Homo sapiens: one gene and its partners. The protein of the gene in region 1 purifies or fractionates together with the protein of each later gene. This does not show direct contact. Each region holds a gene or a part of one and is shown on either strand. Other genes may lie near its edges.

Region 1 (5,419 bases):
AAGCTTTTTGATGTGCTGCTGGATTTGATTTTCCCGTATTTTATTGAGGATTTTTGCATCAGTGTTCATCAAGGATATTGGTCTAAAATTCTCTTTTTTGGTTGTGTCTCTGCCCGGCTTTGGTATCAGGATGATGCTGGCCTCATAAAATGAGTTAGGGAGTATTCCCTCTTTTTCTGTTGATTGGAATAGTTTCAGAAGGAATGGTACCAGTTCCTCCTTGTACCTGTGGTAGAATTCGGCTGTGAATCCATCTGGTCCTGGACTCTTTTTGGTTGGTAAGCTATTGATTATTGCCACAATTTCAGCTCCTGTTATTGGTCTATTCAGAGATTCAACTTCTTCCTGGTTTAGTCTTGGGAGAGTGTATGTGTCGAGGAATTTATCCATTTCTTCTAGATTTTCTAGTTTATTTGCGTAGAGGTGTTTGTAGTATTCTCTGATGGTAGTTTGTATTTCTGTGGGATCGGTGATGATATCCCCTTTATCATTTTTTATTGCGTCTATTTGATTCTTCTGTCTTTTTTTCTTTATTAGTCTTGGTAGCGGTTTATCAGTTTTGTTGATCGTTTCAAAAAACCAGCTCCTGGATTCATTAATTTTTTGAAGGGTTTTTTGTGTCTCTATTTCCTTCAGTCCTGCTCTGATTTTAGTTATTTCTTGACTTCTGCTAGCTTTTGAATGCGTTTGCTCTTGTTTTTCTAGTTCTTTTAATTGTGATGTTAGGGTGTCAATTTTCGATCTTTCCTGCTTTCTCTTGTGGGCATTTAGTGCTATAAATTTCCCTCTACACACTGCTTTGAATGCGTCCCAGAGATTCTGGTATGTTGTGTCTTTGTTCTCGTTGGTTTCAAAGAACATATTTATTTCTGCCTTCATTTCGTTATGTACCCAGTAGTCATTCAGGAGCAGGTTGTTCAGTTTCCATGTAGTTGTGCGGTTTTGAGTGAGATTCTTAATCCTGAGTTCTAGTTTGATTGCACTGTGGTCTGAGAGACAGTTTGTTATAATTTCTGTTCTTTTATATTTGCTGAGGAGAGCTTTACTTCCAAGTATGTGGTCAATTTTGGAATAGGTGTGGTGTGGTGCTGAAAAAAATGTATATTCTGTTGATTTGGGGTGGAGAGTTCTGTAGATGTCTATGAAAAAGCAAGAACATATGTGGAGTATACCATTTATCTAAAGTCTAAAAACATGCAAACCAATACTGCATTGTTTATAGATATGTGTATATGCTTTTTTTTTTTTTTTTTTTTTTTAAAGACAGATTCTCACTCTGTCGCCCAGGCTGGAGTGCAGTGATGCTATCACAGCTCACTGCAGCCTTGACCTCTCCGGCTCAAGTGATCCTCCTGCTTTGGCCTCCCAAGTAGCTGGGACTACAGGTGCATACCACTATGCATGTCTGATTATTTTTTTTCTTTTGCATGGCTAATTTTAAAAAAAAATTTTTTTGGTAGAGACTGGGCATGGTGGTTCACGTCTGTAATCCTGGCACTTAGGAAGGCTGTGGCGGGCAGATCACCTGAGGCTAGGAGTTCAAGACCAGTCTGACCAATGTGGTGAAACCTCATCTCTGCTAAAAATACAAAAATTAGCTGGGGGTGGTGGCAGGCACCTATAATCCCAGCTACTAGGGATGCTGAGGCAGGAGAATTGCTTGAGGCTGGGAGGCAGAGGCTGCAATGAGCCAAGATCATGCCACTGCATCCAGCCTAGGCAACAGAGCAAGACTCCATCTCAAAAAGGCTGGGTGCAGTGGCTAACGCCTGTAATCCTAGCACTTTGGGAGGCTGAGGTAGGCAGATCATCTGAGGTCGGGAGTTCTAGACCAGCCTGGCTAACATGGTGAAACCCCGTCTCTCCTAAAAATACAAAATTAGCTGGGCATGGTGGCGCATGCCTGTAATCCCAGCTACTCAGGAGGCTGAAGCAGGAGAATCGCTTGAACCCGGGAGCAGAGGTTGCAGTGAGCTGGGATTGTGCCAATGCACTCCAGTCTGGGTGACAGAATGAGACCCCATCTCCAAAAAAAAAAAAAATTTAGTAGAGATAGGGTCTCACTATGTTGCCCAGCTGGTCTCAAACTCCTGGCCTCAAGTGATCTTCCTGCTTTGGCCTCCTAAAGTGCTGGGATTGTAGTCATGATCCTCCACACCCAGCCTGGTAATTTTTAAAACAATAAAAATAAAGAATGAGAGGGGAAAAAATAGAGGCACCAAGTGGAAACACTAAGTTTGGCTGTCAAGAGATGCAGAAATGGGGTGTTAGCTGGAGGGGGGTATAGGTAAAAAGATTTTTTTGTCTTAAGGCAGAGAATATATGACAGCATGTTAGTATGTTTCTAGGAAAGAGCTAGTAGAGAGGAGACAAGTGATTTCAGGAGTAAAGAGATAACTGAAAGAGCATAGTCCTAGACTGTTGCCCACCTAGTTTGTCAGCAACCAGTCCATCCTCCCTCTAGTGTATCCTCCCCAGCACAGCCTGCTTAGTTTTTCCAAGACAGAGCTTTGTTCTTATCACTTTGTCCCCCAGAAATCTTTAATGACTCCTCATTACCTGTGTCATCACACTCGTCAGCCTGGCATTGGAGACTCTTTCTAGCCCCATTTCATTCTTCTCTCCACAAACACTCTGCCCCCAGCCAGAAAGATGTGTTTACTCTTCCCCAAATACCAAGAAACCATTTTACAGTTGGCTGGTGTCCTATTTGGTACCCTCACATTGCTTGGCACATTCTTTAATCTTATTTCACCCCATGTCATTTTTTTCTAAATATTCCCAACCCACATTGACCTAGCGCTGAACTACTGCAATATGGAGGAGTATTTGTGTTGCACTTGGTACATATGTGCTGTCTTGTATTTTTCTTCATTTCAGTGACTCATCATCACTGTTAATAGAAAGAGCATGGCTCTCAGAATCACACAGAGTTGGGGTTTTTCTTTTTCAAATATGTATGAAAATAATACATGTTTGAGTGTTTTATGGCAAACAATACAAGCATATACATATAGTAAAAGGTAAAAGTCTGCCTCTACATTCATACTTTGTCCATTCTCATACCCCAAGAGTGACAACTGACAAAGGTTAATATATTTTTTCAGACCTTTTTCTGTGCAAATGCAAATCTAAATAAAGAGTATTGGAAAGAAGGATTTGTATTTTATTAATTAAATCATATTATATATATATATATGCATATGCCCTGCTTTGTTTATTCAACAGTTTAGTGTAGGTCCTTCCACATTGGTACGTACAGCTCTACCTCACTTTTTATTAATAGGATAAGGGCACCAAAATGGGTTTAACTTTTACCTTTCTAAAGGATATTTTTATTTTCTTCACTTACTATAAACTGTGTTGAGTGATCATCCTTCTGCCTATATTCTTGTTCATTGTGTTTAAGACAACTTCTTAAAAGTGAAATGGTTAGGTTAAAATGGGTTTTGTTTTTGAATCCTGGCTTTTCCCAGCTGTATAGCTTTGAATGAAGTAATTTAATCTCTCTAAGCCTACTTCCTCATCTGTAGAATAGATATATAATAACTCAAAGTTTTGTAATGATTAAATGACCCAAAGCACACTAGCTGTCAGCCTTCATTCCCTGCCCCGTGAATTGTCTTTCCAGTTAGAGGATAAAGTTCAGGAGGAGAACAGTGCCTTAAAATCTCTGCATAGATCATGTTACTTTTATTGCATTAATTAAGACTCAGAAAGTTATCCAGCTGATTGAATGTTTTCTTTAATCCACCTACAGGATTGCCAAGGATCCAAGATTTGAACGATTACCATGTACACACAAAGGAACCTATGCAGATGACTGCTTAGTACAGAGAGTAACTCAGGTATTATCAGTTCATAACTGTTTACTTTGTGCTTAAAAAAAAAAAATGTAAACTATTATCTCCTGAATGTTCATGGTCAGTAAAACATCTAGGAATATACATTATGGTTAAATTAAAAAAAAATTGCATAGCATTCCTTCATAAGAAGCATAGGTGTCTTCATTTACTTGAGAAAGTGGATTGAAAATGTACACTCTAACCATAATGGAAAGAGCACAGGCTTGGGGAGGAGACATGGGTTTCACGTCTCAGCACCTGCATTTACTGGCTGTGTGATTTGGGACATTTAACTGATTCTTTATCTCACAAATCTCTGTAAAATGATTTTAAGTGAGTTAATGTAGAACCCATTTATTTTTGATGTAGGAATTTTGTTCCTCTTCACGATGCCTAATCCAAAAGTGCTTCTTAGTTAAATCTGAGAGTCTCCCAAGATGCTGTTTCACACATACCCTAGAATAAGTAGGTTTTTAATTCCTTCATTAAGCACCACAAGGACTTCTGCTACTGAGTGCTTTTATAAGGGCCTCTCTGCTGATGATAATCTTCATCTGCTCTGCTGACCACAGAGCCATCCTTTTAGCCACTTCACCCCATGGGGCGGGTGGGTGGGGCCAGTATTTCCCACAGCACAGCTGACACCACTCTGCCACTTTTTATAAAACTCAGTAGGAGAGTCAGACGTGACAGATGTGAAGCTTCCTATAAAATAGCTTTCACCTGACAGCTAAATATTACTGCTTTTATAACTGCTAGGCTCTAGTTTCAGGCCCTGAATATCCTACTTAGGCTTCCTGTTTCGGGGATAGCTTACCTCTAACATCAGTAGGCCCAGAGCACACCCAAGCCCCAAGATCTAGGGAAAGGAGGGAGCTATGGCCTCCAAATTAAGGCACTTTTTATCTCCATGGAGTTCCTCGGAGCATTTTCCCAAAACTAAAGAATTGTCTGCCCCAAGTGTGAAAGTCCCTTTCATTTATGAGCAGAAAACAGTTTGCAGCTTGTGAAAAGTTTTCTACCTTCTCCTCCTCAAGATTCTAAATGCTGCATTCAGCCCAGGCAACTTGTTTATTTTATATAACAAGATTAGGAGCTCCTAGATCATAGTAGGTACTCAACAAATTGTTATAGCCTGCCCTTCGCTACTTACTGTGAAAATGAACGATTCTCAGACTGGTCAGTCGTTGTGCCATTATCCAGTATTCACTAAGCGTGCTCAGTGACCTCAGTGTGAACATCACTCCATGTCTCTTACAGCATAAGTGTTACATTGTGGCCACAGTTGACCGGGACCTGAAAAGAAGAATCCGTAAGATTCCTGGAGTTCCTATCATGTACATTTCTAACCATAGGTGAGAAATTTCCCTTGGAGAAGGGAATAGAAATATATAATTGATATCAATTGAAAATGAGGATAAGTGATAAGGTTATAAAGGATTTGAAAGAAATTATTGTATCAAATGTTTACATAGTTATATTTGAAGAAATGAGACAAAGCAAGAGCAAGAGCAAAAGAGAGAGATAGGATTTAAGGAATGAGGCAAACATTTAAATTGTTAGAGTAAGATTAC
Region 2 (3,500 bases), on another chromosome or scaffold:
GCAGCCCTATGTGGATGTGCCAGGAGCTCAGAGTTCAGAGTTCGGGTTCTGGCATGGGGGCCGCTGAGGGACTCACAGTTCTTCCTTGAGGGAGGGCTCATGATGTGGGTCAGGAGGCAGGGCTCATACACACAAACAGGACTGGGGAGCGCCCGTCTAGTTACACAGAGCGGCTAGAAGTTAACGTCAAACCGTAGTAGACAGAATGCCGGGCCAACAGAGTATTAGCCACCCCCTCAGTGTCCTCCCTCACCTTGCAGATAGGGACACAGGCACAGAGGAAGGAAGGGGCCTGTCCAAGGTCCTTGTTTGAGGAGGAAGCCCCCTAAGCCCTCTTCCAGTGTTTGAGAGTGCCTCAGGGAAAGGGCCCCAAGGGGATGGGATTGGGATATGTGTGTTTTAGGAGAAAATGCCTGGTCCTCTAAAGTGACTGTGATGGTGGGAGCTTCAGGTAGCCTCCGTGTGTGTGCACACACATGTGCACCTGCAGCATAGGGCTAGGCGGGGAGAAGTGGAGCCAGGAAGCCAGGAGACTGAGCTGGGCACACGGGCTGTCTCGGCCTGGCTCTGCTGGAATGTCACAGGTGGGGGACATTGGCACAGAGCAGGGTTAGTGGGTAGATGGGCCAAAGTGAATGAGCATGCCAGTCCTGGCATCCTTTTGAGGCATCTCCTGCAGACCCAAACATCAGCCCACGCATAGCTGTTTGCAAGTGGCTTTGTTCAGAACCCGTTCCGCAGGCCAGTGGTGAAGGCCCAGGTGATACAGCCTCAGACCTGCCTCGGTTGGTGGTGTGAGGCTACGATGACACCCAGGGCTGTGGGTGCCTGTCTTCTGGGCCTCAGCTCTACCTACAGACTCTGAGCAGAGTCTCTGTTAGAAAAAGATCGCTTGGTGCGGCAACATGACAGCACCTTCCTCTGGTGGTCCCTGGGTCAGCATGTTTCCAGTGCCACCCCAAATGTCACAATAGGCCTCATACATGTCCTCCTGTCTTCCCCTCTGCCACTGAACACTTCCCAGGCTAGGTTAGGTGGGTGAGATTGAAATGTACACATACATCCCTTTCTGTGTCTTATGGCCCTTCCTTCTGCCTATCTCAAGCTTCAGCAGGCCAGGATGTTAAGACCTCCTGGGTGGACGGCTGGCTGCTCTTGGGGGGCCCTGCACTGTCATGGATCTGGCCTGCTCTGGGGTGGCAGCATGACGAGGCGTGTGTGGAGGTCACTCAGCTAGGAGCATTGCTTTGGAGAGGCTTAGCCTCACACCTCCTCCACTCTCTCAACCCCACCATTTGGTTCAGTTCAGTTCTCTCACCACATCTGTGGCTTTGTTTCTCGTCTCATTCCCAATTCTAACACAAAAGCTGAGCCACTGGCTGCTGGGCATGGGCAGCCGCTGGTCCTTGCTTTTCTGAGCAGCGCTGGTCTGCCCAGGAAAGCTCTTTGGGATTCGGGAAGGGGAGCCAGGCTAAAGGCCAGGGTGCCCTGGAGGGGCTGGGCCCACTTTCCCTGGAGACCTTGGTGACTTTGGGGGAGAATGCTTGCCCTGGGACAGGGTGGGTGAGAAAGGAGGTAGGGGGGCCTCTCTGGGTGCTAAGGGGGAAATAACAAAATAAAAGAAGCTTGGAGACAGGAAGCAGGGGAGCAAAGTGACAGGCAGGCAGGAGGCAACCCAGTGTCTGTGGCACACACCTGAGTGCCAGTGCCGGGCCCAGCATGTCCTACTTGTAGATGAAGAAACAAGGTCAAAGTCGTCAAGAGACTTACACAAGTTACAGCACTCAAGAGTGGCAGAGCTGGGATTCCTCTCCGCTATTTTAAGCCTTTTTGTTCCTGTAGGATTGGAAGGGTCTTCTTGAGATCACCGAGTCCAGTGGCTCCCAAACAGCAATCCCCAGACCAGAATCAGCTGGTGAATTGTTGAAACACAGATTCCCAGGCCTTAGCCCAGGAGGTATTTTAAAGGTCTCCCTAGAGAATTCTAATGTGTAGCTGGGTTGGGAATCAGAGATCTAGTCCAATTTCACCACAAGGAAACCAAGGCCCAGGAAGGGGAGGTTCCCACTGTGCCTGCGTCCCCATCTGCAAGGTGAAGGAGGAGACTGAGGGGGGTGCTAACTCTCTGTGGGCCTGGCATTCTGTCTTCTTCCCCACTCTTGGCTGGAGATGGCCAGGGTGATACCTTCCTTGCCCCATCTCACCCCTCCCCTGACCTGAGGCTGTGAGGAGGCAAAAGGAACAGTAAATCTCAGTCAAACAGACTAACTGATCCTGGGCTGTTTTACGTCCGAGTGGAAATGGGGAAATCTATCCAGCATTTCAGATTCTTATCCAGATAATTACCATTTGTCTGAGAGTACAAATTTGGCAATTAACTGGCTCATTTGGCAAATGTCACAGCCGATGGCCCATGTAGTGAATTCAGGCCAGGGGAAGATCATGGCCAGTCCTCTCCTCCCTGGAGCCAGTGCAGGTACACCTATCCGGGTGGGTGCTCAGGTGTGTCTCCACCTGAAGACCACGTCCAGGTTGAGGCACTGCTAGCTGCTGCACCACCCATCTGCTCTCGGGAAAACCTCTGCTCACCCAAGGCTGAAGGATTTCAAGGTTAGGTGGCCCATGCAGGGCCCGTTCCTGGCATCAGAGAGCAAGAGGCAAACAGACAGGTGTGGGAGAAGGGAACAAAGGAGTCATTTAGGGACAGGCCTGGGCAGGGAGGAATGAAGCGGAGAGTAGGAAGTCAGGAGGGAGGTGTGGGCAGGGCGGGACTGTGGGGATCAGAGGCCCTGTCAGCCATCAGGGCCTTCAACCACTTTCTGAGGGAAGAGGGAGAGAGGGAGAGAGAAAGCTGGGGCCTCAGAGGACAATGGGGAGGGTGCTGGGAGGGAAGCGGGGGCAAAAGGAAAGAGATGGAACTGCCAAAGTGCCATCTGCAAGGTGAAGGGAGCATGGGAGGGCTTAGGCCAGCAGGAGTGAAGGGGAAGGACGATGCCACAGAAGACACACAGGACAGCCTAGTGCCACCACCTCTAGGTGCGCCTCTTGAAGCACAGAATAGGATCTGAGTCCTGTTGTTGAAGCTTGGCCTTACCGCTTTCCAACTGTGAGAACTCAGGCAAGCTGTGTAATCTTTATAGGCCTCGGTTTTCACACCTGTGAAGTCGGAGGGATAATGCCACTTACCTCCACAGGAGGCTTTTGCTGGTTAAAGGAGAAAAGTCCTGGCACATACTAGATGCTCAGTAATCAACACTGCCTTCCTTCCCTCTCCTAGTGTTGAAGGAGAGCCCAGCGACTTTTAAACCTTCCCATGTTATATTACTTCCTATACAGGAAAAATTGCCAAGAGCTGAACAGACACAAGGTGCATCCCTAGCTGTCACCCCAAATGCTCCTCCCCCGACAGGGTAGGACTCATCCCAGAGGTGAGAAAGGACCATTCTAGCAGCACAGAGTTCCCAGTCCATGGGAACTCCAAGAGCCTGCTGTGTCCTGCC
Region 3 (4,113 bases), on another chromosome or scaffold:
GCCAATTTTTTGTATTTTCTATAGAGAAGGGGTTTCACCATGTTGGCCAGGCTGGTCTTGAACTCCTGACCTCAAGTGATCCACCTACCTTGGCCTCCCAAAGTGCTGGGATTACAGGCGTGAGCTACCATGCCCAGCCAGGAGTGGTTTCTGTTCAGCTCCCACACCATCCCTGCCTTTCAGAAACAGATTTCAGTCCTGCCCGCCCCCCCCCCCCCCCCCGCCTCCCCCAGTCTACTTCCCCAACCCTGGATTCTCTTCTAGAGTCTTGGGCCCAAGCGGGCTATATTGGGGCTGGCGGGAGGGTCCCCACCTTGCTCTGCTTTTGATCTAGGTGGTGATGGAATGCTAGGCCACCCACCACCCTAAAACCCACCTCATCCTGACCTGCAAAATTGGTGGGAAGATGGTAACAGTCCTGGAAGGAGGAACAAGAGAGACTTGAAGGAGAGAAGTGGGACAGGAATACGCGGTAGACAGTTATAGACAGAGACAAACAGAGCCAGACAGCCAGCCCCAGAGACAGAACCCACAGGAGAGGCACGCCCAGAGGTGAGGAAAGGCAGAGGTTGGGGCAATGGGTCCTGCCCGGCTTGTGGAAAATCACTTCCCATCCCAGCCTCAGCCTCCTTCTCTGTACAATGGGGGTGACCCATGCTTCTCTCTGTTGGAATGGTGGGGTCCCAATCAGTGATTTCCTGCATATCCTGGGCAGCCCAAGGGCCTGGGAAATGACAAGCGTAGTCCTAGTGGATCCCCTCCTTTCACCCCTCCTGACTGAGGACTTCCCATGAACCCGGCACACTCCAGGACCCAGGGGTGCAGCACTGAGCCAACCAGGCCGCCCTCCGACCCTGTGAAGTCCCCCTGTCTGGCACTATCGTCGTTGTTGTGGCTGCTGTTCCACTGGAGACTTAGAAGCAGGGATTTCAGCGCAGACATTTCCAGTCTAGGCAGGAGGTTCTCAGCTGGAGAGAAGGGTCTAGAGTTCCCGCTGGGCTTGGCTTCTCAGGACCCAACATGTCTGTGGATAAAATGAGCATGAGAGACTCTCCTGTGTGCCAGGCAGTGGGAAGACAGGGGTGGAGGGGCGGTGGCTCTTATTATCAGCTCCTAGGAGAGGGGCAGTGCACCCGGGCTCTGGGTGATGGGGGGATCAGGGCCCCCAAGAAGAGGCGCCACTCCCACTTCGCCAGGCTTGCCCCAGGGCCAGGGTCCGTGCCAGGTGTGGGTGGTGGGTGGGAAGGGGTGGGGTGAGTCATCAGGGCCAGCCCCGCCCTGCTTTTATTTAAGGTCCCCAGCAGGCCCCACCACCACGGCTGCCCAACCCGGTCCCAGCCATGTCCGTGAGTGCTCCAGGGGCCCGGGGCGGGGCCAAGCAGGGAGGGGGCTGGGGGCTCCTCTTTCAAAGGAGCAAGTGGGCAGTGAGTGTGCCACGGACTGGCCTGGGCTGTGGCCTCCGGGTAACCCCCATCCCGACTGTCCCCTCTACCTCTTTGTGGCTTCCTCTGGGGCCCTCTTTGAGGATCTTTCTGTTTGTCTTTGTTGCTCTCCCCATCTGTTTCCCTGTCTGTTTCTGGTCTCTTTCCTGCCTCTCCGCCACCCTTTCCTCTTCCACTGATTTCTGCCAGTCTCAGCCCTGGTCGGCTCCTCTGAGGGGTGACCCACCTTCTGCCTCCCTCCTTCGGTCTCACCGGCTCACAGTGGCCCCTGCACCCCACTCTTGCAGAACGTCCCCCACAAGTCCTCACTGCCCGAGGGCATCCGCCCTGGCACGGTGCTGAGAATTCGCGGCTTGGTTCCTCCCAATGCCAGCAGGTGAGGCCCCAGGCCCTAGGGGTAAAGGGTACAGGTCTCAGGATCAGCTGACTCCCAATTTTTGCAGTCCAGAAGTAGGGGCCCGAGGCCACCTGTATCCACCAGGCTAGGAGTCCGAGGCCATTTCTGACCTCAAATCTGATGTATTCGTATTTGCCCCCGTGCCTTTGTGGCTGGGGTCCCTAAGTTTCCCTAAGCATTTGAGGTCCCTGGGTAATCTCAGGGTTCCTAGATATAGTCCTATGACTTCCATGTCTGAGTCCCAGGGAACTCTGGAAATACTCCAAGTCCTGGAGACACCCTGGACCCTGGGAGTCCTTGCCAAGCCATCCTTTGACTTCCTGGCTAAGGAACTTCGGGCCTTCTGGATTCTGAGGTACCCTGGAAATACTGGGGTTCCTGGTATTATTCTTTGTCCTGTAGAAGCTGAGGGTTCCCTGAGCATCAGGAGCACCCTGGCTATCACCCAGACCTCCTGGGCAGCTCCCAGGCTCTTTGGAAATGAGGGCACCCTGCCCTAAGCGTAGTGAGTTTGGTCTGGGTAGGTTTCTGCCAAGGGCCTCATGATATTTTGGCTGCCTTGGGAATCTAAGCTCCCTGGTCATTAGTCGCCCACCTCTCCTTCTGCGGTGTGTGCCTGTCTTCAGGTCCCTGTTAATTTGGGGGTACTCTGGGAATGGGGAGTGCCAGCCCATAAGACCTTCACTTTGGTCTGGGCGGTTTATGTTTTGTTTGTTCTTTCGTTTTTTTGTAAGGTGGGGTCTCGCTATGTTGCCCAGGCTGGTCTTTAACTTCCGGGCCCAAGCGATCCTCCCTTCTCCACCTCCCAGAGTGCTGGGATTACAGGGTGAGCCACTGCACCCAGCCAACATTTCATTTACTTATTCATTCAAAGTAAATTGTAGACATCGGTATTCCTCACCCTCAACATTTCTTGGTCTGGGTGGTTTCTGAGCCCTGACGGCCACCATCCCCCTCTTCCAGGTTCCATGTAAACCTGCTGTGCGGGGAGGAGCAGGGCTCCGATGCCGCCCTGCATTTCAACCCCCGGCTGGACACGTCGGAGGTGGTCTTCAACAGCAAGGAGCAAGGCTCCTGGGGCCGCGAGGAGCGCGGGCCGGGCGTTCCTTTCCAGCGCGGGCAGCCCTTCGAGGTGCTCATCATCGCGTCAGACGACGGCTTCAAGGTGCGTCTCTGCGACAGGGGCGTGGACGCCAAGACTTAGGTCCCTGGAGCAGAGGGTTGGGCAAAGCCAGGCTATTGGTGGAAGGCAGGGAGGTTCGGGGCGGGGTGAGGGGGGTAGGGAAGTCGTGGCCAAGGCGGAGAAGGGTGTCCTTCGACCCTCTCTCTCGCCTAAACAACTCCCACTTGGGTCCGAGGGACAGAGAGACAGCAGGGTCAGGACGAGGCGAGCACCAGCCAAGTGTCCAAGGGGTGGGCGTCCTAGCGGGAAGGCGTGGCCCAGACTCGCCATCCCAGACCCTACTCCCAGTTCATTCCTTCCTGAGGTCCGGGGTTTGAGGCATGGGGAGGGATGGGTTGGAAACAGCGCCCAGGAACTCGTCCTAGCAAGGATTGGCGGGTGGGAGTGGCGGCAGATCCTCCACCACCCACAGCTTACGCGAATTCACCTCCCTCCTCTGCGCTTTAATAGCGGGTAATGGTCGCTGAAATGAGAATATCCATTACCAGCACTAAAAAAGCCGCTTTTTACTGTGCCACACAGTCAACTCGTTTGATCCTCACGCAAGAGTTAGAATGAACAATAGCCCCATTTTCCCAGTGAGGAAACTGAGGCCCAGAGGGGATGAGTGATTTCCCCAGGGCCACCCAGCACGGGCCTCCGGAATCCTCACCACCGACCCTCCCCTGCAGGCCGTGGTTGGGGACGCCCAGTACCACCACTTCCGCCACCGCCTGCCGCTGGCGCGCGTGCGCCTGGTGGAGGTGGGCGGGGACGTGCAGCTGGACTCCGTGAGGATCTTCTGAGCAGAAGCCCAGGCGGGCCCGGGGCCTTGGCTGGCAAATAAAGCGTTAGCCCGCAGCGCGACTGTGTCTGTGTCCCATTCACTGAGATGAGCAAACTGAGACCCAGAGAGGCCAAGATACTGGCTCCGGGCCACACAGCGAATCCGAGGCGGAGGCGGGCTCTGAGCCTGCCTGTGCTTAGGACACTTTCTGTCTGCGAAGGCGTGAGGGTCGCGATCTGGGAAGGAGTGGGTGTGGGGCGTGCCCTGACGCAGCATTTGTGCAAAGCAAGCCAGCTGGGAATGCGGTCGGGCGGACCTGCTGGCG
Region 4 (3,342 bases), on another chromosome or scaffold:
TAAGAAGCAGTTTGTTTATAGTTAGTACTCGCTCTGCAGTATTCCAAGCATCAAAATATATTATTTTGATACTCTATTAGGTGGGTTTTATTAGTGTCATTTTATGCAAAAGGACACCACCAGGTTAGCAGTCTTCCCAACGTTACAATGCTGGTAAGCTTGTAAAAATTCTGCCTCCACAGTCAAAACTACTGACAAATACAAGACTCTTAACAAATTAATAGGTCAATGTGGTTTTGAAGTAGGAGGTGGGACCTGACTCTGGAGGCAGGTTTTAGACACCAGGCCAAATTGAGGGCTAGCTAAAATGGGGACCAGGGACAGGATGGAAGCAGTGTACCATGTCAGTTTACCATTGTGATGGCAACACCTTGGAGTTACCACCTCTTTCTGTGGCAATGACCTGATGACCCAAAAGTTATTCCCCGTTCCCTAGAAATTTCTGCGTAAACTGCCCCTTAATCTACATGTAATTAAAAGTAGGTATAAATATGACCCCCAAACTGCCCTGAGCTGTGCCTCTCAGCACAGTGCCTGGGGTAGCCCTTCTCTGCAGGAGGAATCATGGAGCTGTAATACTGCCACTTCAATAAAGCTGTTTTCTTCTACCCTACCTCCAGCTCACCCTTGAATACTTTCCTGGGTGAAGCCAAGAACCCTTGAAGGCTAAGCCCCACTTTGGAGCTTGCCTGCCTTGCATCAGTTTCATCTTCAATGTATTCATTTAATATATACATTCAATATATTTCCCAAGCTATTAAAATTTTTGGTTAGTATTGGGGTATAGTAATGTTGTGATGTATATGATAAAACTAGTATTTGATCATAGCATGATGAAACAGACAATTCTCTCCAATTCTTACAAAAGCTGGTAAAACAATCTGCCAAAATAGCTGCTTGGCATTTTGGCAAAATAACTGATTGACTTACAGCCATTTAGCACAATGTCTAAAGAGAAAAACAATTCATGCCATTCTTTAAAGAAGGCAAAACTTCCATGTGTCTCTTTAATTTTGCTCTCCATTTTTACTTGAACTTTTGATTTAAATCATCTTTCTCTGCTTCCTTTGTGTCAGTGGTCTGTCAATATTTTAGAACAGTATTTCACAAATCCACAATGAAAATGAAGAACTAAAAGGAAATCAATTATTTTCAGATAAACAAATAAATATATATTTTTTGAAATCCCATAGCACTTAGTTTATGTGCATTTTCCATTGTGGTAATTAATAAAGCAAGACACCAAACTATTTCTTGAAACAATGTCTTAAACATAAGAGTTAAATGAAAATCCTTAAAAAAATAAGTTATAAAATTTTTAAACATCCGATTGAGGAATTCTGGAGTTAGACTAAGGATCAGAAGAAGAAGCAACCCTGGCTTTACCGCTACCAGTGGGATCTTAGGGGAGCCGGCTAATCCCCTGGGAACAGGATGCTCCAACCACAAATTGGTAAGATGGATAGGAGCTCTCTTAGGACATTTTCAATCCTAACAGATCATAAATGAATGAAATACTTACACAATTCTGAATTCATAATCATCTCTGTTTCTTAGAAATACATTTATATGTTATTATTCAGCAATTGTTTACTTAAGGCCTACAACTCTACCTGGAAATTCAGAAGAATGAAGGATTTTCACTGTCAGCAAAAAACTGTGCAAATTTTTGTGGGGGCATAGGATAAGTGTGACATACTGGACCTACCCAAAAATAATTAGAGCCTGAGAGGAAAAGCAAAACAAACTAACAAAAATCAGTTCCATAATTGTTTAAGGCCATATATGGCTAACACTAATGTGACTTGTGAAGCTGAAAAAGCAGATGAGGAGATGAGAAGAAGAAAAGATCAGGAAGTAATTGGGAGTCACTTCCAGGAAAGAGTAAGACTTTGGCTGCAATTTAAACTGCAACTTAAATCCTGTAGTTGAGGCATCCTCAGAAACAAAGTCTAGAGGCAGCAATGAGTGTTTAAGGAGCTCCAAGGGCCAGTGGTAGCCAAGCACAGTCAACTGGATTACTGAGAACTCAGAAGTCAAGGTAAAGAATGAGACCTTCTCCTGAGGACAGTAGGAGGTCACTGACAGTTTTTAGTGTGGGAATAGCATAATAAGTGTACTGCATCACCTCTTTAATTTCACCTCCTTCCCTTGGCCCTCCACACTGCAGTCAGACCAGACTCTATTCTTCTCCTTAGGGTTACCTCTGGACCTTTGCATATTCTGTGCACTCTGTCTGGAAATCTCCCCCCAGGCATGCACCCTCCACCTGGCCAGCTCCAGCCTGTCTTCCCAATTACAATTTAATCATTTTTAAATCCAGTCAGATGCCTTTCCTGTGTACTCCCACATAGCACCTGTACTTCTCAATGAAAGCACTGACTACTACTCTATAGCAATTGCCAACATGACTGAATCCCTCCTCTATAGGCTCTATGGTGGCAGGATTTACCATTTTTATCTTTATCTCCACATATAGTTTCTGGAATATGGTGTGTGGTGGATAAATATTTGTTGACTAAGTGAATGAACTTAATAGAACTTAATGAATGAATGAATTCAATGAATAAATGACTTAATAAACTAAATTACAATGAATAAATGATTCAATTAAATAATTTATTCATTGTAAAATATACAGAGGGAGGCAGGAGCCTGTGAAACAATTAAAAGCATGAGTTAAAATGGTAGACGTGACTTAGATAATCAAGGAGGGATGAAGCAGAGACCAAAAAAACTTGACAATGGATTGGCTTTGAATGGTGAAAGAGAAGAAAGAGTGAAAATAATTTTATGATTCTTCCCTCCTCCACTGCCTGTATTCTTTATAGCTCACACCATTTACTAAGCTCAGGGTCAAGCCTTGTTTTCTTTTTGTCCACAGTGGGCATAGACTCACAATTATTTCAATGCTGATATTTCCTATTTTGAAAGCTTCTGCCTCCTTTCATATTCTATCCTCAAGCAATATCCAAAATCAAATATTTAAGTACTAAACATATGTCTTCTATTAGTAGGCCTCAATTATTTCTTCTCAGTTAAAACACCACTGAGCTAATCAGGAATAAATTCACATCCACCAAAGTAACTGCAGTTGGACAAATTGTAAAGGGGTGAGGGCTAACTAAGTTCATGGATGGAAAAAGATAGATCAGAGTTTTCTAACTGGAAAGAAGTAAATAAAATATTTTCTTGGATTTACCTTTGGTTTGAGTCTTGACCCAGGAATTAATCTTTTTTCTAGCTTCTTCTGCACATTCTAGGAAGTCTACTGCCTGGGGTTCTGAGGAGTAATATTTCTGACAGAGTCGAATATATTCCTTTAAAGCAAGAAAATGACAA

The links. Proteins that work in one complex are often made in the same cells at the same time.
Region 2: the proteins of FCF1 (region 1) and TRIM29 purify together in Homo sapiens (affinity purification with mass spectrometry; 2 studies listed by BioGRID and IntAct, with this or other methods). This does not show direct contact.
Region 3: the proteins of FCF1 (region 1) and LGALS7B purify together in Homo sapiens (affinity purification with mass spectrometry, with the first as the bait; 2 studies listed by BioGRID). This does not show direct contact.
Region 4: the proteins of FCF1 (region 1) and SERPINB2 purify together in Homo sapiens (affinity purification with mass spectrometry; 2 studies listed by BioGRID and IntAct, with this or other methods). This does not show direct contact.

The regions. Positions count from the first base shown.
Region 1 is NC_000014.9:74,728,971-74,734,389, forward strand, and holds part of FCF1 (rRNA-processing protein FCF1 homolog), read left to right. Parts: intron 1-3,760; coding exon 3,761-3,848; intron 3,849-5,105; coding exon 5,106-5,200; intron 5,201-5,419. UniProt on the Homo sapiens protein: Part of the small subunit (SSU) processome, first precursor of the small eukaryotic ribosomal subunit.
Region 2 is NC_000011.10:120,131,614-120,135,113, reverse strand, and holds part of TRIM29 (tripartite motif-containing protein 29), read left to right. Parts: intron 1-3,500.
Region 3 is NC_000019.10:38,787,887-38,791,999, forward strand, and holds LGALS7B (galectin-7), read left to right. Parts: upstream 1-1,313; 5' UTR 1,314-1,340; coding exon 1,341-1,346; intron 1,347-1,729; coding exon 1,730-1,818; intron 1,819-2,802; coding exon 2,803-3,004; intron 3,005-3,693; coding exon 3,694-3,807; 3' UTR 3,808-3,868; downstream 3,869-4,113. UniProt on the Homo sapiens protein: Could be involved in cell-cell and/or cell-matrix interactions necessary for normal growth control. Pro-apoptotic protein that functions intracellularly upstream of JNK activation and cytochrome c release.
Region 4 is NC_000018.10:63,897,705-63,901,046, reverse strand, and holds part of SERPINB2 (plasminogen activator inhibitor 2), read right to left. Parts: intron 3,321-3,342; coding exon 3,203-3,320; intron 1-3,202. UniProt on the Homo sapiens protein: Inhibits urokinase-type plasminogen activator. The monocyte derived PAI-2 is distinct from the endothelial cell-derived PAI-1.